Homo sapiens: one gene and its partners. The protein of the gene in region 7 interacts with the protein of the main gene of each other region in a pairwise test. Each region holds a gene or a part of one and is shown on either strand. Other genes may lie near its edges.

The links.
Region 1: the proteins of TEX11 (region 7) and DUSP21 interact in binary tests that used the Homo sapiens proteins (3 or more experiments, as listed by UniProt).
Region 2: the proteins of TEX11 (region 7) and ING3 interact in a two-hybrid assay, tested with the Homo sapiens proteins (2 studies listed by BioGRID).
Region 3: the proteins of TEX11 (region 7) and LRRC36 interact in binary tests that used the Homo sapiens proteins (3 or more experiments, as listed by UniProt).
Region 4: the proteins of TEX11 (region 7) and FBF1 interact in binary tests that used the Homo sapiens proteins (3 or more experiments, as listed by UniProt).
Region 5: the proteins of TEX11 (region 7) and RIBC2 interact in a two-hybrid assay, tested with the Homo sapiens proteins (one large-scale study listed by BioGRID and IntAct).
Region 6: the proteins of TEX11 (region 7) and MAD1L1 interact in a two-hybrid assay, tested with the Homo sapiens proteins (2 studies listed by BioGRID and IntAct).

The regions. Positions count from the first base shown.
Region 1 is NC_000023.11:44,842,600-44,845,388, reverse strand, and holds DUSP21 (dual specificity protein phosphatase 21), read right to left. Parts: upstream 1,369-2,789; 5' UTR 1,257-1,368; coding exon 684-1,256; 3' UTR 501-683; downstream 1-500. UniProt on the Homo sapiens protein: Protein phosphatase component of the sperm flagellar doublet microtubules. May act as a regulator of sperm motility by mediating dephosphorylation of sperm doublet microtubule proteins.
Region 2 is NC_000007.14:120,953,777-120,957,276, forward strand, and holds part of ING3 (inhibitor of growth protein 3), read left to right. Parts: intron 1-1,782; coding exon 1,783-1,848; intron 1,849-2,383; coding exon of another isoform or gene 2,384-2,395; exon of another isoform or gene 2,396-3,204; intron 3,205-3,500. UniProt on the Homo sapiens protein: Component of the NuA4 histone acetyltransferase (HAT) complex which is involved in transcriptional activation of select genes principally by acetylation of nucleosomal histones H4 and H2A.
Region 3 is NC_000016.10:67,325,652-67,329,614, reverse strand, and holds the start of LRRC36 (leucine-rich repeat-containing protein 36), read right to left. Parts: upstream 2,801-3,963; 5' UTR 2,753-2,800; coding exon 2,683-2,752; intron 1-2,682. Other genes in the region: BTB/POZ domain-containing protein KCTD19, read left to right, coding at 2,908-2,910.
Region 4 is NC_000017.11:75,913,543-75,917,042, reverse strand, and holds part of FBF1 (fas-binding factor 1), read left to right. Parts: intron 1-1,903; coding exon 1,904-2,026; intron 2,027-2,110; coding exon 2,111-2,296; intron 2,297-2,744; coding exon 2,745-2,921; intron 2,922-2,992; coding exon 2,993-3,130; intron 3,131-3,223; coding exon 3,224-3,341; intron 3,342-3,500. UniProt on the Homo sapiens protein: Keratin-binding protein required for epithelial cell polarization. Involved in apical junction complex (AJC) assembly via its interaction with PARD3. Required for ciliogenesis.
Region 5 is NC_000022.11:45,420,193-45,423,692, forward strand, and holds part of RIBC2 (RIB43A-like with coiled-coils protein 2), read left to right. Parts: intron 1-2,097; coding exon 2,098-2,216; exon of another isoform or gene 2,217-2,781; intron 2,782-3,500. UniProt on the Homo sapiens protein: Microtubule inner protein (MIP) part of the dynein-decorated doublet microtubules (DMTs) in cilia axoneme, which is required for motile cilia beating.
Region 6 is NC_000007.14:2,226,446-2,229,945, forward strand, and holds part of MAD1L1 (mitotic spindle assembly checkpoint protein MAD1), read right to left. Parts: intron 1-3,500. UniProt on the Homo sapiens protein: Component of the spindle-assembly checkpoint that prevents the onset of anaphase until all chromosomes are properly aligned at the metaphase plate.
Region 7 is NC_000023.11:70,548,712-70,552,211, forward strand, and holds part of TEX11 (testis-expressed protein 11), read right to left. Parts: coding exon 3,415-3,500; intron 1-3,414. UniProt on the Homo sapiens protein: Regulator of crossing-over during meiosis. Involved in initiation and/or maintenance of chromosome synapsis and formation of crossovers.

The DNA of each region.
Region 1 (2,789 bases), about 26 Mb from region 7:
GAGATCACCAAAGACACCTTGAGAACTTGCCATCAAGTACAGCAGTCAAAAAAATACAATATTTTTAAACTTTATGGAGTGGAATGGTCTTTTAAAAAACTAGTTTTTTTTTTTTTAACTAATGTATAAATCCGATCTAGAAAACCAGAGATGGGCCACTGTGATTGAAGGTGGGCAAGGGTAGCCTGAGACTCCTCCAGAGCTCCTGGAGCACAGCTTGAATGAAAGCCACTTATCCACTAGGTTGGCACTTACTGGGAGAAGTGCAAGGGATGCCAAGATGTCTAAGGCTTTGACTTTGGGTTGGAAAGAACCGGGTGAGATTCTAGGGGATTCACTCCTGGGTTAGTCAGCCTCTGGCAGGGCTCAGGATTCCAGGTCTGCCACATGTATTGGGTGCTGCTGGCAGGTCTATGTGAGCTGAGCATTACTTGCCCCACCCTGGTTCCAGCCAGGCCCCAATAGCTTGACCTCACAATATAAAAAATATTTTCACTATCTTATGTTTCATGAATTTAATTCTATTAAGGTAAGGCTTACTACGTTCAAAACTCCAACCCCCTCCCTTTTTTCTTGCCCTTTAACAAGGCACCATCCGGTTTTCTTTACTAACAAAATGTCAGTGTTCAAGTTCAGTCTTGGTGCAAGATCGATGGCAGATGTCAGGGGCTGGCCGGGATGGCTTACATTGATATCATCATACGTAGGTCCTTCTCATAGATGTCAGGGATGTTACCTACCGGCGAGTTGATCATGCGCACGGTGTTGTTATTAAACAGCTTGAATTCGTAATTGATGAGCTGTTCCCAAAAGCCGTTGTTGGGCCGGATGATGGGGCGGCGCGACTTGGTCCATGTATGGGCGTCCAGCAGCGACATGGAGTGGTATTTCATGAGGTACGCAAGGCACAGTGAGGCGGAACGGCTCACTCCAGCCATGCAGTGCAGCAGCGTACGGCCCTGCCTCATATCGATGGTGTGGATAAGATCAGCAATGGGGTCAAAAAAGTCGTAGAGACGCGAGTCACGAGCATCGGTAACAGGCACCTTTATGTACTGAATGCCCTCGAAGAATACGTTGACCACTTCCACCGAGGCATTGACAATGGCGGTGATGCGATTGCTGGACAGAAGGAGTTTGTCGTTGGCGGCCACACCATTGCTGAGAAACAAGCTTCTGGTTATTTGGGAGAAGCTGTAGATGGAGGGCTGCTGGACACCCTGAGATGATGAAAAGGAGGACGCGGATGCTGTCATCAAGGCGGCTGGTCCGAGGTCTCTCTACGCTGGTTCGGGACACAACACTTACCAAGCTAGTTCAGGATAGCAGCCGCGCCGCCAAGTCTCAGGCTAGGTGTTGGAGAAAGAGGACCAGCTATCGGCCACCACCCTCTTTCTGTCTCCTCTCACCACTCCCATCTGGGCGTCACAATCCCGGACAGATAGCCCTGCGGCTCCGGTTTCCATGGCAATGGCCGCTTGCCGCAAGGAGGACAGGGCCTCTAAGCAGGGTCTTCAGAGACACCCCAGTCTCTTTTCTTTTTATCTTTCTTCATAGTCATTTATTTTCCAAGGCCTAATTCTTATCTTTCTTGACTTTTAAAAATGTTCTGTTACAAGATATCTATTTTATGTTTCAATTATTGGACCACGTTAAACAAGATCTATGAATACTTCTATTTCATCAGTGTTGCAGAACAGGGCTTACACTTTCCCTGCAAAATAGCAATATCACATTCTAAGTTGGGGAACAGCATTTGGCTCATGTGATATGCTAATCTCTATAAAACTGGAGCGAGATATGGGATTTGGCTGGGCTTGGTGGACTGGCCTGATACTTCTTTGTTGATTGTAACCATAAAATTATTTTCCTGCTTACAAACACATCAGGGCTGGTTGTAAGAGAGCATTGCTAACTGATATATAGCCCTTTATCTTGAAGTTGGCCTGTGGTGGACAGTTGTGACTAATTTAGCTGTGTCATAGTCCATTTGTACATACAGCTCAAATGACTTACCGCATGAGTCTATTTTATTACCTGAAACAACAGTTCAAATTATTTTGTTTACTTTCTTCAAAAAAAAATGCCTACATGCTTTGTGAACTACAAATCACTTTGACCACTACCGATGCTGTCTTCCCAGTAATATTAAACATTCTGAAACAAGTTAATGCTACATGGTAATTGGGCCAAAAATTGAGACAGTTTTGCTCTGTCACCCAGGCTGGAGAGTCCCAGGCCTCTGCTTCCTGGGTTCAAGTGATTCTTGTGCCTTAGCCTACCGAGTAGCTGGGATTACAGGAACGCACCACCACACCTGGCGAATTCTTGTATTTTTAGTAGAGACAGGATTTCACCATGTTGGCCAGGCTGGTCTCAAACTCCTGACCTCAGGTGATCCACCGGCCTCGGCCTCCCAAAGTGCTGGGATTACATGCACGAGCCACAGCACTCAGCCCAAAAATTAATTTCTAAAATGTAACCTGACATTTGCATTTCCTTCCAGCTAAGATTTTTATAGAATTTGGCTGAAAATTGAAAAGAACTATAGCCTAAAACTAACAAATTGTTTCACAGAGTAGCCAATTGACTCACATACTTTGCTCTCATTCCATCATCATTTTGGTATGTGTTCAAAGGTGTGCTGTGATTACGAACAAAGATGAAATAGATACCAGGCTGCTTATGATGGTCAAGGAAATGATAACCTCAAAACACAACACACGTTTCTTTTCTCAGTTGTCATAATCAAATTATTTTGCATTACTTAAATTGTCAGTCCCCACAAA
Region 2 (3,500 bases), on a different chromosome or scaffold from region 7:
AAATTAGTGGACCCACAGAAGAACGAAATCTTAAAAGTTAGAAGGAATTTAAGAAAGCCTTCTAGTTTAAACTCTAAATTTGCACACGAATTGGTCTGGAAACATAGAATTCTTTGAGGTTTTGTTAGTTTTATAGTGGCTATAGCTGTCTTCCAGAATTGAATGAGTATACACGTACATCTCAAAGTTTGCTTTGAAAGTATGATTGAGTTCATTTAGGGATGGATACATTGGAAAAACAACTTAAAAGACTTGAGTTTGGTCATGATTCTGCTATTTAGCTGTGTGACATTAAATCTTAATATTTCTGAATAATAATGCCTTCCTAAACCCAATGTTCATAGAATTGTTCAAGGATCAACTAAGAGGCCTGGCGTGGTGGCTCACACCCATAATCCTAGCACTTTGAGAGGCTGAGGCGGGTGGATCACCTGAGGTCAGGAGTTCGAGACCAGCCTGGCCAACCTGGTGAAACCTCGTCTCTACTAAAAATACAAAAATTAGCTGGGCGTGGTGGTGGGCGCCTGTGATCCCAGCTACTCGAGAGACTGAGACAGGAGAATCACTTGAACCCAGGAGGTGGAGGTTGCAGTGAGCCTAGATCGCGCCACTGCACTACAGCCTGGGCAACAGAGTGACAGAGTGAGACTCCGTCTCAAAAAAAAAAAAGGGTCCACTAAGGAAGAAATTTGGAAACTACAAATTGAGTAGTTCTGTTATGATATGTTATTTATTCTACCACATGGAGGGAAGATTGTTTCTCTTAGGAAAAAAAAAAATCATAATCTATAACAGAAGTGGTCCTAGCTTGGAAGATACCTGGAGGGACATGTGTTTGTGAGTAAAGACATGTTATATCCACATCCCAGAGTCACTAATCATTTCTTTAACCTGTGGAGTGCACCTTAAGTATACCCTGAAAAGTCTAGTACTCCATGGAAATTCATAGTATCATCTTCTTTCCCCCTCTTTTTTAAAAAAAAATTTAATAAGTTGAGGCAAAATCTAAAATACAGATTGAGTTGTATGAATATATACCTAATTTAAAGTGGGAGTTATAGAACAACTGGAAAATGGGGAAATGCAGATCAGAATCCTTTCAATAGCTGAACTTTAACAAAAATTTTTTAATGGAATGCAAATGTACTTTACAAGTTAGATCAATTTTAGTTAACTTTTTATTTTAAATACTGTTCATTAACTCATATAGCTTTTTCTAGACTTACAATGGCATTTACTTTTAATTATATCCTTTCTAGAAATTCTGAACATCTCCCTTTTACTCTTGGCCATTGTGCATAGTTTCTAATCCTATACCATCCCCACCCTATTTCTAACAGGTTTTTGTTTTGTTTTGTTTTTTGTTTTTTTGAGACAGAGTCTCGCTCTGTTGTCCAAGCTGGAGTGCAGTGGCCCAATCTCGGCTCACTGCAACCTCTGGCTCCCGGTTCAAGCACTTCTTGTGCCTCAACCTCCTGAGTAGCTGGGATTACAGGCGCCCACTACCATGCCCGGCTAATTTTTGTATTTTTAGTAGAGATGAGGTTTTGTCATGTTGGCCAGGCTGGTCCCAAACTCCTGACCTCAAGTCATCCGTCCTCCTTGGCCTCCAAAAGGGATTACAGGCGTGAGCCACTGCCCCTGGCCTCTAACAGGTTTTTTATTACTAAGGTAGGATGACTGTGATAACAAGATATGATAATGAAAATGCAGTTGTATGTCCTGCATATGAATATTTTAAAATGATTAATTTATTTTTGAAATGAAAATGTTTTCATTCAGGACTACTATAAAGCTTTGGAAGATGCAGATGAGAAGGTTCAGTTGGCAAACCAGATATATGACTTGGTAAGTAAAAGTAATGTGCATACTGTGCCATAAGTACTTGAATAACAGATTATATCTTAAATTGTATTGGCTTAAATGTAGTAGGAAGAAGCAACTAAAACTGAAGTATTGCTCTCTTGATCACATCTAATTTGACATTTCAGTGTCCATTTTATGGTTTCTTTGTGGAAAAGTCAGAGTGGTTAGTTAATGTGGTGAGAACTGTACATTTTAGCAAGTCTATACGGCGGTAAGGTGGTTTCTGATGTTAGATATTTTTTAAACAAGAATTAATGTTTAACTTTATTTTACTAATCCTTGTCTTCTTAAGGTAGTGTGTTTACTTGCCTTATACATCATTTTGAGATTGTTTCTGTGGTAAAATACACCTAAGAAGACTGCTTTGACAAGAGTTCTTGGTAGTCTGATTAAAATGAAGAAGAATCATTTGAATCAGTGTTTATGTGAGTGATGTTAAAAGATCGTATGTAACAGCTGTGTCAGTTGTTTAAGCAATACAAGATGACAAACTTTAAACAAGATTCTTTTTTTGCAGCAGCACTTCTAAAAGATTGAAAACACCAAGAAGATAGATAGAATATTCACTATTTCTCATATTGATGCAATTGTGGTGCTCTTTTTCATTTGAAACATCTTCTCCTAAAATATACACTTTAAGAAATAGTCATTTCTGTTTTTGCATTAAAGTAAATTAAAGCAGAAAACACATGCTCACTTTTGGCTAACTTCAGTGTATAGATTTCATACTTATGTTGTCTTTCCTGGGTACAGATTTATTACTGAACAAGTACGTGTAAGTAAAATGTCATTGGTGAGCAGGACACAAGATAAAAGGTGAACACCACATATGGTGTGAATTGTAAATGCTTATACCACAAACTTGAAAATGTGTCATGTAGAGCCATGGAAAATGTCTAGTTGTTTTTATGTAGTACACACATTTTAATGGTGCTAACAACCTGGGCTCTTTTGTTCATAGAGTTATTCTGAAAAAAATTTCATAAAAGACACTGCCTAAAGATAGGTAGAATAGGCTGTAGCTTGATTTACTGTGGAATAAAAACCAAAAAAAAAAAGGTCTTAATTGTTTCAGTCTTTAATTATGTCTATAAACTTAGAAAAAGGCATTTACATTTGAATCTAGACTAATTTGTTTAGTAACATTCTTCCTCATATTCAATGACTGTATGTATCAGTCCTTATTTAGAGACTGCCTGCTTTTTAATTCATATAGCTCTTTGGTTCTATTCTTTGTTTTGTTTATTATTTTGTTGTTTTATTGCTTGTTAGACCTTTACTAAAGATATTTTGTGTATTTAGAAAAAATATAACATAAATATATGCTTTTTAAATATGTGTGTGTGTGTATTCATCTCTTATTTAAAAACCACACTGTTCATCCACTCTGTGCCTGAAAAAAGGGAGCTGTACCTGGGTCTAATGGAGGAATAAAAAGTAAATACTAGGCCGGGCGCAGTGGCTCACGCCTGTAATCCCAGCACTTTGGGAGGCCGAGGAGAGTAGATCACGAGATCAGGAGATCGCGACCATCCTGGCTAACATGGTGAAACCCCATCTCTACTAAAAATACAAAAATATTAGCCGGGCCTGGTGGCGGGTGCCTGTAGTTCCAGCTACTCGGGAGGCCGAGA
Region 3 (3,963 bases), on a different chromosome or scaffold from region 7:
TTATAGGACAACTGGGGAAATAAGAACACTAGTTAGATATTTCATGATATCAAGAAATCACTGTTCACTTTAGGAGGCTGAGTCACTTGAGGTCAGGAGTTCAAGACTAGCCTGGCTAGCATGGTGAAACCCCGTCTCTACTAAAAATACAAAAAAATTAGCCAGGCATGGTGGCACATGCCTGAAATCCCAGCTACTCAGGAAGCTGAGGCAGGAGAATTGCTTGAACCCTGGAGGCAGAGGTTGCAGTGAGCTGAGATCATGCCACTGCACTCCAGCCTGGGCAACAGAGCCAGACTCCATCTCAAAAACAAAACAAAACCAAAAAAAGAAATTACTGTTAAATTTTTTAGGTTGCATATGTGACTTTTTTTTAAAGTAATCTTAGCTTTTAAAAATACATACTGGCCAGGTGCTGTGGCTTGCACTTATAATCCCAACTCTTAGGGAGGCTGAGGTGGGTGGATCACTTGAGGTCAGGAGTTCAAGACCAGCTTGGCCAACATGGCAAAACCCTGTCACTACTGAAAATACAAAATTAGCCGGGCGTGGTGGCGGGTGCCTGTAGTCCCAGCTACTTGGGAGGCTGAGGCAGAAGAATCGCTTGAAATGCGGAGGTGGAGATTACAGTGAGCCGAGATCACGCCACTGCCCTAGAGCCTGGGTGACAGAGCAAAACTCTATCTGAAAAATAATAAAAACAATAAATAAATAAAATACTACTGAAATATTTATGGAGGAAATCACATACTTGGAATTTGCTTCAAAATAGTCAGTGTAGGGGGTTGGAGGTGGGTGGAGGATAGGTGAGGTATACGTGAAAGAAGCTTGGCCATGAATTGATGATAACTGTTGAGGTAGGCTAATAGAGTTCATTATTCTGTTATCTCTACTCTTGTATATATTTGAAAATTGCCATAATATAAAATTATAAAATAAGTGATAAATGCTTATATATGTAGAGAATATTTCTGGAAAACTATCCAAGATACTGGTAACAGTAATTGCCTTTAGGAAGGGGAACTAGGCCTATGAGACGGGGATGGGGGAGTAAAGACTTTCTTCTCACTGTACAATTTTTATTTTATTTATTTATTTTTTCGAGACGGAGTCTCACTCTGTCACCCAGGCTGGAGTGCAGTGGCGCGATCTCGGCTCACTGCAAGCTCCGCCTCCTGGGTTCACGCCATTCTCCTGCCTCAGCCTCCCGAGTAGCTGGGACTACAGGCGCCCGCCACCATGCTCCGCTAATTTTTTTTGTATTTTTAGTAGAGACGGGGTTTCACTGTGTTAGCCAGGATGGTCTCGATCTCCTGACTCGTGATCCGCCCGCCTCGGCCTCCCAGAGTGCTGGGATTACAGTCGTGAGCCACCGCGCCTGGCCCTCACTGTACAATTATTATATTACCCACAGAATAAATTAATTGAATTATTTTAACAGTCAAAATGAGTAAATATTACATATTTCCCCCCTCTACCAAATTAATCATTAGACTACCGACATGCTCTAGTATATCCTTCCTGTTCTGTTCTTGACTGCACATCATACGCTTCAGCTACCATCTATTTCTGCAGTCTCTTTTACAGCTAAAATTTTCAGCAAAAGTTCTTACTTTCACTGTCTCTTCCCCTCAAATATCATTTCCCTTTTTCATCCCACTCCAATCTGGTTTCCCTCCTCCCCACCCTCCCAAAACTCCCTCTGTCAAGGTCACCAGTAAGTTCCATGTTGCTAAATCTAACAGACACTCTGCATTTAAGTTGCTCAGCCTGTCAATAGCATTTGGCACAGTTGGCCATTGCTTGCTCGATACACTACCCCTTCTCAAATTCCAAGATACCACATTCTTCCTCTATACAACCTCTAAACACTGAAATATTCCAAGGTTGAGTCTTAAGCTTTCTTTCACTTCTCCATCGACATTCTCTCCTTAGCTGAGTTCATCCACTCCCGTAGCTTTAAATACCACCTATTGCTAATGTCTCCAAAATTTTCATCTCTAACCCTGACCTCTCCTCTGAGGTCCAGACCCATATATCCAACTGCCTACTAGGTACCTTACACTTGGATGTCTAATAGACATTTTATTATTTATTTATTTTATTTATTATTATTATTTTTGAGATGGAGTCTCGCTCTGTCGCCCAGGCTGCAGTGCAGTGGTGCGATCTCGGCTAACTGCAACCTCCGCCTCCCGGGTTCAAGCGATTCTCCTGCCTCAGCCTCCCGAGTAGCTGGGATTATAGACTTGAACCACCACGCCGGGCTAATTTTTGTATTTTAGTAGAGACGGGGTTTCACCATGTTGGCCACGCTCAGGTGATCCACCCGCCTCCGCCTCCCAAAGTGCTGGGATTACAGCGGTCAGCCACCGCCCCCCGCAGTTCTGTCACCTGCGGCAGGGTCCCCTGTTAACCTTGTTTCTCCTTCCCTACTTCACACTCCCCTCTTCTCTCTCAATTCCTCGGGCTCTGCCCCACACCCTCCCGTTACTTCAGTTCCTCCACCTCCACCTCCCTCTAACCTTCTGCCTCAAGTTATCCCCCCGCCCCCCAGCCTCAGGTACCGCTTCTCTGTGGTTCCCTCGCCTCTATCTCAGGTTCCCCGCCTTCCACTTCAGTTTTCTTTCCACAGCTTCTGACCCTACGTTCCCAGTCCACACCCTCCCGGCCAGACCCTACCCGGCTGCTCCAGCGTCAGCGCCCCCAGGCGGCGAATGCCTTCCTCGTCCAGCTCCCATTGCTCCGCCATCCCCGCCCGCCGCTCACCTGCCACCGCCCGCGAGACCACCCGGCGCACGCCAGGCCCCGCCCACTGCCCCGCCCCCCGCGCGCGCGCCGCCGCGACCCCGGGAACCGTTATTGGCCGGGTCACAAGCCCGCCCGCCCGCTGCTGGAGCCGCGACCATGGTACGGAGCCCGCTCTGGCGGGGGCGCCAAAAGCACCAAAGCGGCGAATGGGGGCCGCTGTGGCCAAGGATTGGGGCTAAGTGGTTCGAGACCTGGCTCTGGGGCATGGGAGAGAGCGAGGGGCCCCCAGCCGGGAAGGATTTGGGGGGCTGGCTCTGAGGAGTTAGAATAACGCTCTGTCTTGAGGGATGAAGTGTTCTGGCTCTGAGGATGTGGGGGACTCCGGTTCTGAGGGCTGGGCGTGTGCCCCTTTGACGGGGTGGTCTTCATATCTCAGCGCTGGGGGATGCTGACTTTGGGGCAAGGCGAGGGTGTGTGTGAAGGGGAGATCCAAATCTGAAGGATTGGAGCGTGGGGACAGAACTCTAAGGCATGATGGGGAGCTCCAGATCTGAAAGGTTGGGAATCCTGGCTCTGAGGAGTTGGGGTCCTGTCTTTAGAGCATGAGGAAGTTCTAGCTCTAGAAATTGACTTGGACGGGCTGGGCGCGGTGTCTCACGCCTGTAATCCCAGCACTTTGGGAGCCCGAGGTGGGCGGATCACCTGAGGTCAAGAGTTCAAGACCAGCCTGGCCAACATGGTGAAACCCCATCTCTACTAAAAATACAAAAATTAGCCGGGTGTGGTGGCACGGCCTGTAGTCCCAGCTACTCGGGAGGCTGAGGCAGGAGAATCGCTTGAACCCGGGAGGTGGAGGTTGCAGTGAACCGAGATTGCACCACTGCACTCCAGCCTGGGCGACCTGAGTGACAGAGCCAGACCTTGTCTCAAAAAAAAAAAAAAAAAAAAGGTAAGAAATTTACTTGGACGGAGCTTCTTCGGGGGAGAAGGATCAGCGTGGGAAAGAGAGAAGCTCTTTGTAATGGGGTGGGGATGACTGCTTTAGGGCTACCCCGTTTCCTGAAGTCAGTCCGGCAAGAAGCCTTTTGTCTTTCAAGCACCACAGGTTCCCCTAAGCTTGCCTGTGACTGAGGGCTGTCGCCAGGCTGCGATAGCTCTGCACTAACCAGCCCCTGAGTAGTCTTTGGGAAAGAACAGCCGCATCCCTAACCC
Region 4 (3,500 bases), on a different chromosome or scaffold from region 7:
AAACTAAAAATAAAGAAATAAGAAACTAGCCAGGCGTGGTGGCGCACGCCTGTAATCCCAGCTACTAGAGAGGCTGAGGTGGGAGAATCGCTTGAATCTAGGACACAGAGGCTGCAGTGAGTGGAGATCATAACATGGCACACCAGTCTGGTTAACAGAGCGAGACTCTGTCTCAAAAAAATAAATAATAAAAACATTTAAATTTTGTTTTAATTAACTGGGTGTGGTGGTGCACACCTGCAGTCCCTGCCTTTGCTCACATCCTTTTCCTTACCTGTGGAAATCTTTCTAGGCTGAATTCAATGGTAATGAATCTTTCGATGCTACCACCTCCACAAAGCCTTCCTTGTCCTCCCACCTATCTTTTTGTCCTCAGCTAGTAGTTATCATCTTCTAAGGTTTTACAAAGCACTGTTATTTTTTAGAGACAGGGTCTTGCTCTGTTGCCCAGGCTGGAGTGCAGTGGTGTGATCATAGCTCACTGCAGCCTGACCTCCTTGGCTTAAGCCATCCTCCTGCCTCAGCTTCCTGAGTAGCTGGGACTACAGGCGCAAACCACCACACCCAGCTAATTGTGTATTTTTTACTGAGATGTGGGTCTTGCCATGTTGCCCAGGCTGGTCTTGAACTCCTGGGCTCAAGCAATCTGCCCACTTAGGCCTCCCAACATTTTGAGAGTACAGGTGGGAGCCACCATGCCTGGCCAAAAAAAAAAATTTTTTTTAGAGATGGGGTCTCACTGTCACTCAGGCTGGAGTGCAGTGGCAAGATCTCAGCCCACTGCAGCTTGAACCTCCTGGGCTCAAGCAATCTTCCCACCTCAGCTGCCAAGTAGCTGGGATCACAGGTGCATGCCACTATACCCAGCTAATTTTTTGTATTTTTTGTAGAAACGGGGGTTTGCCATGTTGCCCAGGCTGATCTCAAACTCCTGAGCTCAGACAAGCTGCCCACTTTGGCCTCCCAAAGTGCAGGGATTACAGGCGTGAGCCACCATGCCCAGCCAAAAACTTTTTTTTTTTTTTTTTTTTTTTTGAGTCAGAGTCTCGCTCTGTCACCCAGGCTGTAGTGTAGTGGCGCAATCTCAGCTCACTGCAAACTTCGCCTCCTGGGTTCAAGGGATTCTCCTGCCTCAGCCTCCTGAGCTACTGGGATTACAGGCAACTGCCACCACGCCCAGCTAATTTTTGTATTTTTAGTAGAGATGGGTTTCACCACGTTGGCCAGGCTGGTCTTGAACTCCTGACCTCAGGTGATCCACCCGTCTCAGCCTCCCAAAGTGCTGGGATTATAGGGCTGAGCCACTGTGCCCGGCCCAAAAAAATGTTTTTAAAGAAGAAAATAAAAATATCCCACTAGTCAGAGATGTCCACTGCTGACCTGATATCTATCCTGTAGCCATGTCAACGTAGATAGAGATGCTTTTATGTTGTGAAGCATTTTGATTCGCCTCTTCATTTGGTAACTGTGTTAAGCATCTGCCTGGGGTCAGGCACAGTGAAGCTCTCGCCTTGTGCTGTGTGTGGCTGGGCCCACAGCACAGCATTAAGCCACCCTGTGCTTAGCCTGCTTGGCTGATGGGTGAGGACAGGCAGAGTGCGTAGCTGGCGATTCAGCGGCAGGGATGTTGCTGCTCTTTGGCCCTCCCAAGCTGCTAGCCTTGGTGCTGTTGGAGACCTGAGGGTTGGGAGGGCACCTGCTGGGTCCTTCTCTTGGGCAGAATCGTGCGGGCTGGGCCCTGGCAGTGCCTCCCAGGCACCCCTCATTTTGTGCCTCTTTGGGAAGGACGTGTCAGTGGCATAGTGTGGGAGACACTGGTGGGTTCATGCAGCTTCTCAGGGAGTGGCCAGGCGTGATCCTCAGGGCGGGAACCACGCTCTCAGTCCTGCCCTGGGCCCTACAGGAACGCTGGCGGGTGACTGCCGAGCAGTCCAAGGCGGAGTCCATGCAGCGCGCCCTAGAGGAGCAAAGGAAGGTCACGGCCCAGCAGATGGCCATGGAAAGGGCGGAGCTGGAACGGGCCAAGGTGAGTCAAGCCACCGCACTCAGCCCCTGCCCCTGCCATTATGCCCAGGGACACTCACCCCGTGCCTTCACCCCCACATCCCAGAGCGCCTTGCTGGAGGAGCAGAAGTCTGTCATGCTCAAGTGCGGGGAGGAGCGGCGGCGCCTGGCTGCCGAGTGGGCGGAGTTCTCCGCGCAGCAAAAGCTGAGTAAGGAGCGGGCCGAGCGCGAGGCCGAGCGGGCATTGCAGGTGGACACCCAGCGGGAGGGCACCCTCATCAGCCTGGCCAAGGTAGGGCCCAGAGCCTCCGGACAGTGGAGGGCCCAGGGTTGCCTGCGCCCCTCCATCTGGACACATCCGCTTCCAGTCTTAGGAAAGGAGAGTGTAGCACTAATGTCACAAGAGCATAGGGATTAAAACAGTAATCGCATCATCATGCTAACATCTTCCTCGTATTGTCCCAGGTGCATTATACACATTTTATTTGATCCTCATGTTCCCATGACTTTGGTCATTTAGAAATGAGGAAACCGAACTTCAGAGTTGAGCCTGCCACAGTCACGTGGCTTGTGAGGGCAGCACTCCGGCTTGGCCCCAGGCTTCTCTGGCTCTCCCTGGAAGCCCCTGGCTCCACCACCTCCTCCCAGGGGCAGGGTGGGCAGAGGGGACCCTAGAGTCCTGCACAGAGTGCAGCGCAATTCCTGGGAGGAGAATGCAGCAGGGCCTCCGCTGTCTCCAGGAGCAGGCTGAGCTGAAGATCAGGGCCAGCGAGCTCCGGGCCGAGGAGAAGCAGCTGGCAGCGGAGAGAGCAGCCCTGGAGCAGGAGCGGCAGGAGCTGCGGCTGGAGAAGGAGAGGATCAACGCCACCGCCCTGCGTGTCAAGCTCCGCGCCGAGGAGGTGGAGAGCATGAGCAAGGTGCTGCTCGGGCACATGGGCGTGGGCGCATCTGAGCCCAGGCAGCCCTGACCCAGGCGGCCTCCCTGCAGGTGGCCTCCGAGAAGTACGAGGAGGGGGAGCGGGCATTGCGCGAGGCCCAGCAGGTGCAGGCAGAGCAGCAGGCCCGGTTGCAGGCGGTGCAGCAACAGCAGGAGCGGCTGCGGAAGCAGGAGCAGCACATGCACCAGGCAAGGCTCCCTGAGTGTATGGCGCCCCTGCCCCCGGCACCCCCAGCCTCCCACCTCACAGCTGAGTCCTTCTTTCTGGGGGAACGGGGACAGGAGCATCTGAGTCTGGCCCAGCAGAGGCTGCAACTGGACCGCGCACGACAGGACCTGCCCTCTAGCCTCGTGGGTCTGTTCCCCAGGGCCCAGGGCCCTGCAGCCTCCAGCCAGAGTGGTGAGTGGCTCCAGAAGGAAGGGCCGGCGGCTCAGGACTGGGCAGGGGCAGTGCTAGGAGTGGGCAGGCCCTCCTCCAGCCGCTCCAGTTAAGGCGGCCAGCTGGGTTTTATAGTCGCCTTATTTCTTTTTTACACAAATAATGTGTGTTAATTTTAGA
Region 5 (3,500 bases), on a different chromosome or scaffold from region 7:
ATCTTGCTGTTTTCAGACGTGAGTATATCAGGCTCACTTCTGCCTCAGGGCCTTTGCATGTGCTGTTCCCTCTGCTTAGAAATGTCTTTCCCCAGATATCTGTAGGGATCACCACTCTCCTCCAGGGCTGTGCTAAAGTGCTATCTTATCAGTGAGGCTTCCCCTGACCCCCCTATTTTAAACCCTGTACCCTCCTCCCACCCCACATTCCGTATCCTGTTGCTTAATTTTTCTCCATAGCCTTGATCACTGACGTGTTGTATGGTTCATCCATCTCCCAAGTGGTCTAAATTTCCACCTCTGGCCAAAAGGCTTTGTTTCAGCTGTGGACTTGGTTCTTCAGCAGTCTCCTTGACATCTCACAGGACCCTTCACAACATGTCGGAAAGCAGCCCTGGATCCTCTTCTGCATCTGCTCCTTTTTCCATCTTTCTCCTCCAACTAACTGGTACCTCCTGCCCTTAAACCAGAAGTCTAGGGAATCATCCATGACCCACCCCTGACTCCAGGCCATCTCTGACTCTTGTCCCTTCTACCTCCTGCATATATTTTGAACTGTCCGCTTGTCCCCATCCCTGCTGTCACCCTTGTGATGCAAGCCACCATCTCAGCTGAACAGACCTCTGCCAAGATCTTTCTGATGGCCTCCACTTCCTTTCTTGCCCCTCTCTGGTCCATTCCCAAAACAGCAGTCAGTGATACTTTTAAACAATGTGGAGTTTGGCCAGGTGCAGTGGTTCACACCTGTAATCCCAGCACTTTGGGAGGCCGAGGTGGGTGGATCCCCTGAGGTCAGGAGTTTGAGACCAGCCTGGCCAACCTCTGCCTCCCAGGTTCAAGTGATTCAACACTGTTCTTACTTTGGGAGGCCAAAGTGGGCAAATCACGAGGTTAGGAGTTCAAGACCAGCCTGGCCAACATGGTGAAACCCTGTCTCTACTGAAAATACAAAATTAGCTGGGCGTGGTGGTGCGCGCCTGTAATCTCAGCTACCCCGGAGGCTGAGGCAGGAGAATTGCTGGAACCCAGGAGGCAGAGGTTGCAGTGAGCCAAGATGCACCACTGCACTCCAGCCTGGGCAACAGAGCGAGACTCCATGTCAAATAATAATAATACTATTATTATTATTAATACTATTATTAATAATAATAATTAAATAATTAATTATTATTTAAATGCCACCTATAGGCCATCATTTCCCAGGTTTATACCTCCAGCCTGGACTCTTCCCTGAATCCAGACTCATAAATTCATCTAACTTCTCTTGGATGTCTAATGCACTTGGATGTCTAATTAATTATTATTATTAATAATAGTATTATTAATAATAATAATAGTATTATTAATAATATTAATAATAATAATAGTATTATTAATAATAGTATTATTAATAATAATAATAGTATTATTAATAATAATAATGTTATTATTCTGCAAAGGAGGTATGTCCTGCTTCACAGGTAAGGACACAGGCTCAGCAAGGCTAAGTAATAGTTGAGGTTAACAGAGCTCGGAAATGTCTGGGCTGGGATGTGAGCCTCCTCTGACTCCAAATCTTCACATTTTGCTTTTGGACCTTCTACCTTGACCCCTTCACCTCCTACTCTTCCTCTTTCTCTTACTCATTGGCCTGACCAAGTCCTCCTGCCACTCCACAGTATCTGTCATCTGGCCCCACTTCCTCCATAGAGTCCTGTCTGGTTTCTTGCTCTTTCACTTCTGGATTCCCCTGAATCCTTTCCCAAAACCTCTGCACCTGCTCCCAACCCACTTCTTTTGTCCTGCAGGTCTCAAACGTCATTTCTTGGGGCTGTAGAGTATCTCTTGCCCACTGTAAGGATGTAGCTGCCTCAGGATAGAGCAGGACAGCAAGGGGCACACCACCAGCCTGTCCCAGGACCCCAGCATAGTAGTGATCACTAGCACTCATCTGGGAGCTTGACTCTCCCACAGCCTTCAGAGGCAGGTCCTGTCATTATTGTTCCCGTCCTCATGCTCATGGCTAAGGACGTGGTAGGAGGCAAAGGCACGAACGGCCACACGTGGGAAGGTGCTCCTGTGGCCAGGTCGATCTGATTGCTTCTTGCCTCCTTTCAGAGGCCCTCTACACAGAGACAAGGCTGCAGTTTGACGAGACAGCCAAGCACCTCCAGAAGCTGGAAAGCACCACCAGAAAGGCAGTTTGTGCATCTGTGAAAGACTTCAACAAGAGCCAGGTATAGGTACTCCGCGACCTCGGGCTCGACGACTGGAGGGGAGGATGAGCCCACTACGGCTTCCCAAGGCTCTCCGGCTTCCCTGGGATCCCAGTCTCAGCCTGCTCCCTGGTCACATGACCGGCCCTGACAGAGACCCTGATGGGCTGCCTGATGACAGAGATGGATGAGACCCAGTCCTGTGCCTTAGCTCTGAATCTTGGAGGGAAACCTGCCAAACTAGCCATGTAACCTGGGGAAGTCAGCTCACCTTTCTACACCTCGGTTTCTTCTTCTGTAACATGAGGATGGTGACATCCACCTAGACTGTTACCGCCTAGCTCTGCTCCACTGCCTGGTGCTGGTTTCCATTCTTCCCACCTCTCAGACTTCCCCTTTACTGAGAACAGCTACTTGGATGCTCACCGATGGCAGGGATGATGAAGAAGATCATAATGAGCTCGAACACTGGGGCCTCCTGAGACCTCCCACCTCCTCTCTAAACTCTGGCCCCCCTCCTCCCACACACTCCCCTCCCCTCCAACCTGATGCTGAAATTGCTGAAATAGGTTCTTCTTTTTGTTTCTTTGGTTTTTTTGTTTGTTTGTTTTTGAGACAGGGTCTCACTCCATCACCCAGGCTGAAGTGTAGTGGCACGATCATGGCTCACCGCAGCCTCGACCTCCCAGGCTCAGATGATCCCCCCACCTGAGCCATCCAAGTAGCTGGGACTACAGTCACGCGCCACCATGCCCAGCTAATTTTTGTATTTTTTTGTAGACACAGGGTTTTGCCATGTTGCCCAGGCTGGTCTCAAACTCCTGAGCTCAAGCAGTCCTCCCGCCTCAGCCTCCCAAAGTGCTGGGATTACCACATCTGGCCCTCTTTTCGTTTTGGAAATTAGAGCTCGCCCCCCTGCCTCTCCCTCCCCCCACAAGGTTTTCTTTTCGAATGCAATTCTGTTTTCTGGTGGGTGGGGACTTTGCCTGGGTTCATTGATCAGGTTCGCTCGTCAACTAGAACTATGGTCCCCAAAGAAGGCTGTGCAGGATCTGTGGGAGAGCAGATACCAGAGCCCTGCTTTATATTCATTTTTAACCTCATCACTTTTGATTTCCATGTACATGTGTAGTTATAAGCATGTGCTATCATTAAGGTATAGTAGTACCATGCTGTGAACTAAATATATTGGAGATACAAGCTCAAAACTGTCCTGGTGGAGGCAGGCAGTCAAAAATCCCAGAGAGGCTGGACCAGACACCAGAGAATGTGGGTTTTCAACACGGGGGAGAGGAATGAGGAGAG
Region 6 (3,500 bases), on a different chromosome or scaffold from region 7:
GAGCTCCTGGGGGCCCTCTCAGAAGTCTGCCTACCACACAGGGCTAGTGATTACAGGTTAGCTGAGCCTCAAAGAGCCCCAGAAGACTTGCCAAATAGTTCCAGAGCCGGCCTTTGGGTACGACCTGCTCAGCTGGAGGAAAAGGCAGAGTCACTGACTCTTCACGTGGCCCAGAGCCTTGCAGTGCAGCATCTCCCGGCACTTAACAAATGCAGAGTCGCAGACTACACCCCAGACCTACTCAGTCAGAATCTTCTCTTTAGGTTGGGTGTGGTGGCTCACACCTGTAATCCCAGTACTTTGAGAGGCCAAGGCGGGTGGATCACTTGAGGCCAGGAGTTCAAGACCAGCCTGGCCAACATGGGGAAACCCCGTCTCTACTAAAAATACAAAAATTAGCTGGTCGTGGTGGTACGCACCTGTAACCCCAGCTACTCAGGCTGAGGCAGGAGAATCGCTTGAACCCAGGAGGCGAAGGTTGCAGTGAGCCAAGATCACACCACTGCATTCCAGCCTGGATGACAGGGCAAGAGTTCGTCTCAAAAAAAAAAAAACAAAAGAATCTAGGCCAGGCGTGGTGGCTCACGTCTGTAATCCCAGCAGTTCGGGGGGCCAAGGTGGGTACATAACTTGAGGTCAGGAGTTTGAGACCAGCCTGGCCAACATGGTGAAACCCTGTCTCTACTCAAAACTATGAAAATTAGCCGAGTGTGGTGGTAACGCACCTGTAATCTCAGCTACTCGGGAGGCTGAGGAGGGAGAATCACTTGAACCCAGGAGACGGAGGCTGCAGTGAGCCAACATTGTACCACTGCACTCCAGCCTGGATGACAGAGTAAGACCCTATCTCCAAAAGAAAAAAAGAAACTTCTTTTTAGACACATTCTCAGGGCGTTCACATGCACATGAAAGGTTGAGAAGCACCAGAGTAGAGTGGTGGTTCCCAGTGGGGTCCAGTTTTGCCCCTGGGAACATCTGGCCCTGTCTGGAGACACCTGATTGTCACAGGGGGGTGGTCACATGTGTCTGCTGCTGGCTGGCGTCCAGGGGGTAGAGGCCAGGGAAGTTGTTAAACAGCCCACAATGCACAAGAAAGTCCTGAGAAAAAAGAATTACCCAGCCCAAATGCCAAGCGTGCCAAGGCCAGGAAAGCCTGGGACAGGGGAGGGAAGTTTCTCTGTCCTCCCACCTGTGTTCTCTGGTGGCCCAAGCCCACACTTCCTTTACTCCTATGTTACTGTGTCTCGATTCTCAGCTGCTGCTGTTTGGGCGTTCCTAAGACTGCCCTTCAAACTCAGCAGCCTTCCTGGTCTCACTTCTGTGTCTGCAGTCAAGCCTGAGCCTCTCGAGAAGGGTGGGCACCCCGCCTGCAGGGGGCACGACCGGCAGGGACCAGGAGTCCCAGACACACCTGATCCGTGTGCCACCTCTGCCTGGAGCTGACTACAACGGAAAGAAAGGAACCCTGAAAGTTTACCCTTACGTTAAATCAACACGATGTGTGAGAAACCAGACAGCACACATTCCCCCGGCCTGCCATGTTCTCCAGGCCCTCCCTGCCACGCCGGGGGCTCAGCAGGAGAGAGAGAACCACGACGAAGTCCAGGAATGGGATGTGACAGGGGCCAGGGACCAAGGCTGGTCTTGCCGCCATCACTCCGCTCACCACCTTGCTCTGACTACCGCACTCCATCACTGATCCCCTCACCGAGAGGCCTTTACCAGTGAGCACTGGGGGCCTCCGAGCCCCAAGACAGACTCTAGAATCCCACAGCTTTGACAGACAGGCCAAGAGGTCCCAGACATTCGCAACACTAAAATCACAGCATTTCAGACCAGAGTTGCCAACTCTGTCACCCGGGCTGGAGTGCAGTGGCGCGATGGCTCACTGCAACCTCCGCCTCCCAGGTTCAAGCGATTCTCCTGCCTCAGCCTCCCGAGTAGGTGGGATTACAGGTGCCCACACCCGCCTAATTTTTGTATTTTTAGTAGAGATGAGGTCTTACCATGTTGGTCAGGCTGGTCTCAAATTCCTGACCTCAAGTGATCCAGCCACCTCAGCCTCCCAAAGTGCTGGGGTTATAGGCATGAGCCACTGCAACCAGCTCAGAGTTGGCCACTTCTCATTTTGTCAGTGATAAAAAACAACTACCATCTATTACCTTCATAATTTCACAAAAGAACATTTACATAAATATTATATATATACACACACACATATATATATATATGACCTAATCTCAGAATAAAAAACAGTCCTCATCAAGAAAGGGCAGTGAGCAAGCTAGCAACTAGCATTCTTTTTTTTTTTTTGAGACAGGGTCTCACTCTGTCACCCAGGCTGGAGTGCGGTGGCGCAATCTCAGCTCACTGCAAGCTCTGACTCCCGGGTTCACACCATTCTCCTGCTCCAGCCTCCCGAGTAGCTGGGACTACAGGTGCCACGCCCAGCTAATTTTTTGTATTTTTAGTAGAGACAGGGTTTCACCGTGTTAGCCAGGATGATCTTGATCTCCTGACCTCATGATCCGCCCACCTCAGCCTCCCAAAGTGCTGGGATTACAGGCCTGAGCCACCACATCTGGCCACAAGCTAGCATTCTAATAAACACACATTAATTCAATTATGCAACAAAACAAATGCACACGCACACACAGTTTAACCAAATGCAGCAGGGCCTCATCTGGGCTCTGAGAGCGCAGGAAGCCAGAGCCTCCTCTAATGCGGACAGAACTACAGAACGGCTCTGGGGACCGCAGCAGGGACTGGGAAAGAGGGTCCAGGCAGAGGAGCCTAGAGGAGCCTGCGCAGCCACAGGGCCCAGGCAAGGCTGGAGACACTACTAGCCAGCACTCCACTCCCCACCACTCCCTACAACTTGGGGGCCCCATTATCGCAGCCCCAACTGGGACTGGGCTCATCACTCTTTGGAGCCTGAAGTCCTTCAGGAGGCCTGAATCCTCTGCAGTTGTGTCTACAGTGAGAAACCCCAAGAACTTGTAATGAAACAAAATACAACTATTTTATAGAAGAAAACTGTAAAAATCACCCCAAAATCTGTAAATGGCCCTCCACAGTCTGAGACCACAAAACACCCAGTCCTTCTGCTCACTGCTGTGGCTTTGTCTCTGGGCTGCCCAGGCACTCTCAGCACTGTGTTTCCAACACAGCCTTCCCGACAGTCCTGGTGCTCACTCCCCCAGGCAGTTTGGGTTCTGTCCTCAATTAGATGAATGAACTGGCTTTCCGATCCTGTCACCAGGGTCTGTGAGTGCACTTGTGTGAACGCAATGCTGAGCGCCAGGCCCACTCAGGGCGCTAACAAGGCAGGCCTTTAAGCCAGGATGGCTCAGGGCCCCAACTAGCCTCCAGCTACGACCCCAAAATGAGGAGTGCCCATAGTGAGACCTGGGAGACGAATAGCTGTCTCTAGGCTCTGCTAATACCGACCCACCTCAACTACAGAAGACTGGAAGAGGTCCTGCCCGGGCCCAGGGTCT
Region 7 (3,500 bases):
GACCAGCCCTAGCTAGAGAGCAATTGTCCATCCCAGTAGTTGGAACTTGAGTTCCAACAAGCCTTGCCACTGAGAGCTAAAGTGCTCTGGGGTTCTAAATAAATTTGAGAGGCAGTCTAGGCCACAAGGACTGCAACTCCTGGGCAAATCTTTGTGCTGTGCTGGGCTTGGAGCCAGTGCATCTGGGGGACATGCGACCTAGTGAGACACCAGCCAGGGCAGCCAAGGGAGTGATTGCACGACCCCTCCCTCAACCCCAGGCAGTGCAGTTTGCAGCTCCAAAACAGACCCCTTCCTTCCACTAGAGGAGAGGAGAGGGAAGCTTAAGGGGGACTTTGTCTTGCATCTTGGATACCAGCTCAGCCACAGTAGGACAGGGCACTTGGCATAGTCATGAAGGTCCCATTCCAGGACCTAGTTCCCAGATAACATTTTGAGACACACCTCGGGCTAAAAGGTACCCACTGCCTTGAAGGGAAGGACCCAGTCTCGGCAGGATTCATCACCTGCTGACTAAATAGCACTTTGGCCCTCAGTGATCAGCAGCAGTAGCCAGGTAGTACATACTGTGGGCCTTAGGTGAGACTCTGAGACATGCTGGCTTCAGTTGTGACCCAGTACATTCCCAGCTGTGGTGGCTATGAGGAGAGACTCCTTCTGCTTGAGAAAAGCAGAGGGAAGAGTAAAGAGGATTTTGTATTGCAGCTTAGATATCAACTCAGCCACAGTGGGTTAGAGCACCAAGTGGGCTCCTAGGGTCCCCGGTTCCAGGCCTTGGCTCTTGGATGGCATTTCTGTACCTGTCCTGGGCCAGAGAGGAGCCCACTTCTCTGAAGTATGAGTCCCAGGCCTGGCAGCATTCACCACAAGCTGATTGCAGAGCCCTTGGGCCTTAAGTGAACACTGGCAGTAGCCCAGCAGAACTCCCCACACCACCTGATGGTGGTGGCCACGGGGAGAGACTCTTCTGCGTGTGGAAAGAGGAAAGAGTGGGAAGGACTTTGTCTTGTGGTTTGGATACCAGCTAAGCTGCAGTAGAATAGAGCACTAGGTAGATTTCTAGGGTTTCTGACTCCAGGCCCTGGCTCCTGCATGTCATCTCTGGGGCCAGGGGGAAGTTGCTGCCCTGAAGGGAAGGACAGCCTGGCTGGCTTCATCACCTGCTGACTGTAGAGCCCTAAGGCATTGAGCAAACATAGGTGGTAGCCAGGTAGTGGTTACAGTGGGCCTTGGGTGAGACCCAGTGCTGTGCTGGCTTCAGGTCTGACCAGCACAGTCCCAGTGGCAGTGGCCACAAGGGTGCTTGTATCACCCCTCCTCCAGCCCCAGGCAGCTCAACATAGTGGAACAGAATAGCAAACCCAGAAATAAATCCATACATCTACAGTGAACTCATTTTTGACAAAGGTGCCAAGAACATACTTTGGGGAAAGAAGAGTCTCTTCAATAAATGGTGCTGGGAAAACTGGATATCCATATGCAGAAGGAGGAAAGTTGAGATCCCTATGTCTTGCCTTATACAAAGATCAAATCAAAATGGATTAAAGACTTAAATCGAACACCTCAAACTATGAAACTACTACAAGAAAATATTGGGAAAGCTCTCCAGGATATTGGAGTAGGCAAAGATTCCTTGAGCAATATCCTACAAGTATGGGCAACCAAATCAAAAATGGACAAATGGGATCACATCAAGCTAAAAAGCTTCTGCACAGCAAAGGAAACAATCAACAAAGTGAAGAGACAACCTGCAGAATGAGAGAAAATATTTACATACTACCCCTCTGATAAGGGATTAATAACCAGAATATATACAGAGCTCAAACAACTCTATAGGAAAAAAAATCTAATAATCGAGTTTTAAAATAAGGAAAATATCTGAATAGACATTTCTCAAAAGAAGACAAACAAATGGCAAACAGGCATATGAAAAGGTACTTACTATCACTGATCATCAGAGAACTGCAAATCAAAACTACAGTGAGATATCATCTCACCCCAGTTAAAATGGCTTATATCCAAATGACAGGCAATAATAGGAAGTGCTGGTGAGGATGTGGAGAAAAGGGAACCCTTGCACACTGTTGGTGGGAAAGTAAATTAGTACAACCACTATGGAGAACAGTTCGGAGGTTCCTCAAAATACGAAAAATTGAGTTACCGTATGATCCAGCAATCCCACTACTGGATATATACCCAAAAGAAAGGAAATCAGTATATCAAAGAGGTATCTGCACTCCTATGTTTGTTGCAGCACTGTTTACAATAGCTAAGATTTGCAAGCAACCTAAGTGTCCATCAACAGATGAATGGATAAAGAAAATGTGGTACCTATACACAATGGAGTACTATTCAGCCATAAAAAAAATAAGATCCAGTCACTTGCAACAACATGGATGGAACTGGAGGTCAGTATGTTGAGTGAAATAAGCCCAGCACACACACAAAAAACAAACTTCACATGTTCTCACTTATTTGTGAAAGCTAAAAATTAAAATAATTGAACTGCTGGGGAGAGAAAGAGTAGAGTGATGGTTACCAGAGGAGGGGTGGGGGAAATGTGGAAATGGTTAATAGGTACAAAAAATAGAATGAATAAGATCTGTACTTAATAGCACAACAGGGTGATTATAATCAACAATAATTTAATTGTACATTTTAAAAAACTAAAAGTATAATTGAATTGCTTGTAACACAAAGGATAAATGCTTGAGGTGATGGATACCCCATTTATCCTGATATGATTATTATGCATTATATGCCTGTACCAAAAAATCTCATGTACCCCATAAGTATGGGTACATGTACACCGCTATGTACCCACAAAAATTAAAAATAAAACATTTTTAAAACTAAAAAACACTGGATTGTAGTGATAGTTGCACAACTCTATAAATTTACTGAATTGTGCACAAGCCATGGGTGAATTTTATGATATGTGAATTATACCTCAAGAAACCTAATTTTAAAACAACTGAATAAACCTGCACAGAAAAGAAAAAGAAATCAGCAGAGGAGGGACTAGAATACAGGTCTTCAATGTTCCTTCTACTCTTCTGAGAAAGGATGCTTCTGAGAAAGGATGGGAATAGCAATAACTTTTTTCAAAAGGTTCATATCATCACAGAGAAAGTAATCATCCCACCATGATTTGAAAATATAAAATAATTCAAAATGCCTGGTGGTACTGCTACTTGGACCTAATCCATAATACACTTGTGTTAGAAAATGTCTACTTTCAACTATTTATATTTCAGAAACCCAGGAAAATTCTGTAGTGTGTAACTACAAAATTGTAATATGAATTTATCCTAAAACTCATATCAGAAAGCATTATTGTATATAATTTATAGTACACAAGACAGTTCAGTTCTTTAAAATTAACTGAAAGTTTAATATCACTATTTGACTTACAGTGCGGCTAATGTGGCTCAGAGCATCTTCAAAATAGCCCCAAACTTCTTCCAGGGGACAGAGCTCTACATTCGACGCCCCATCTG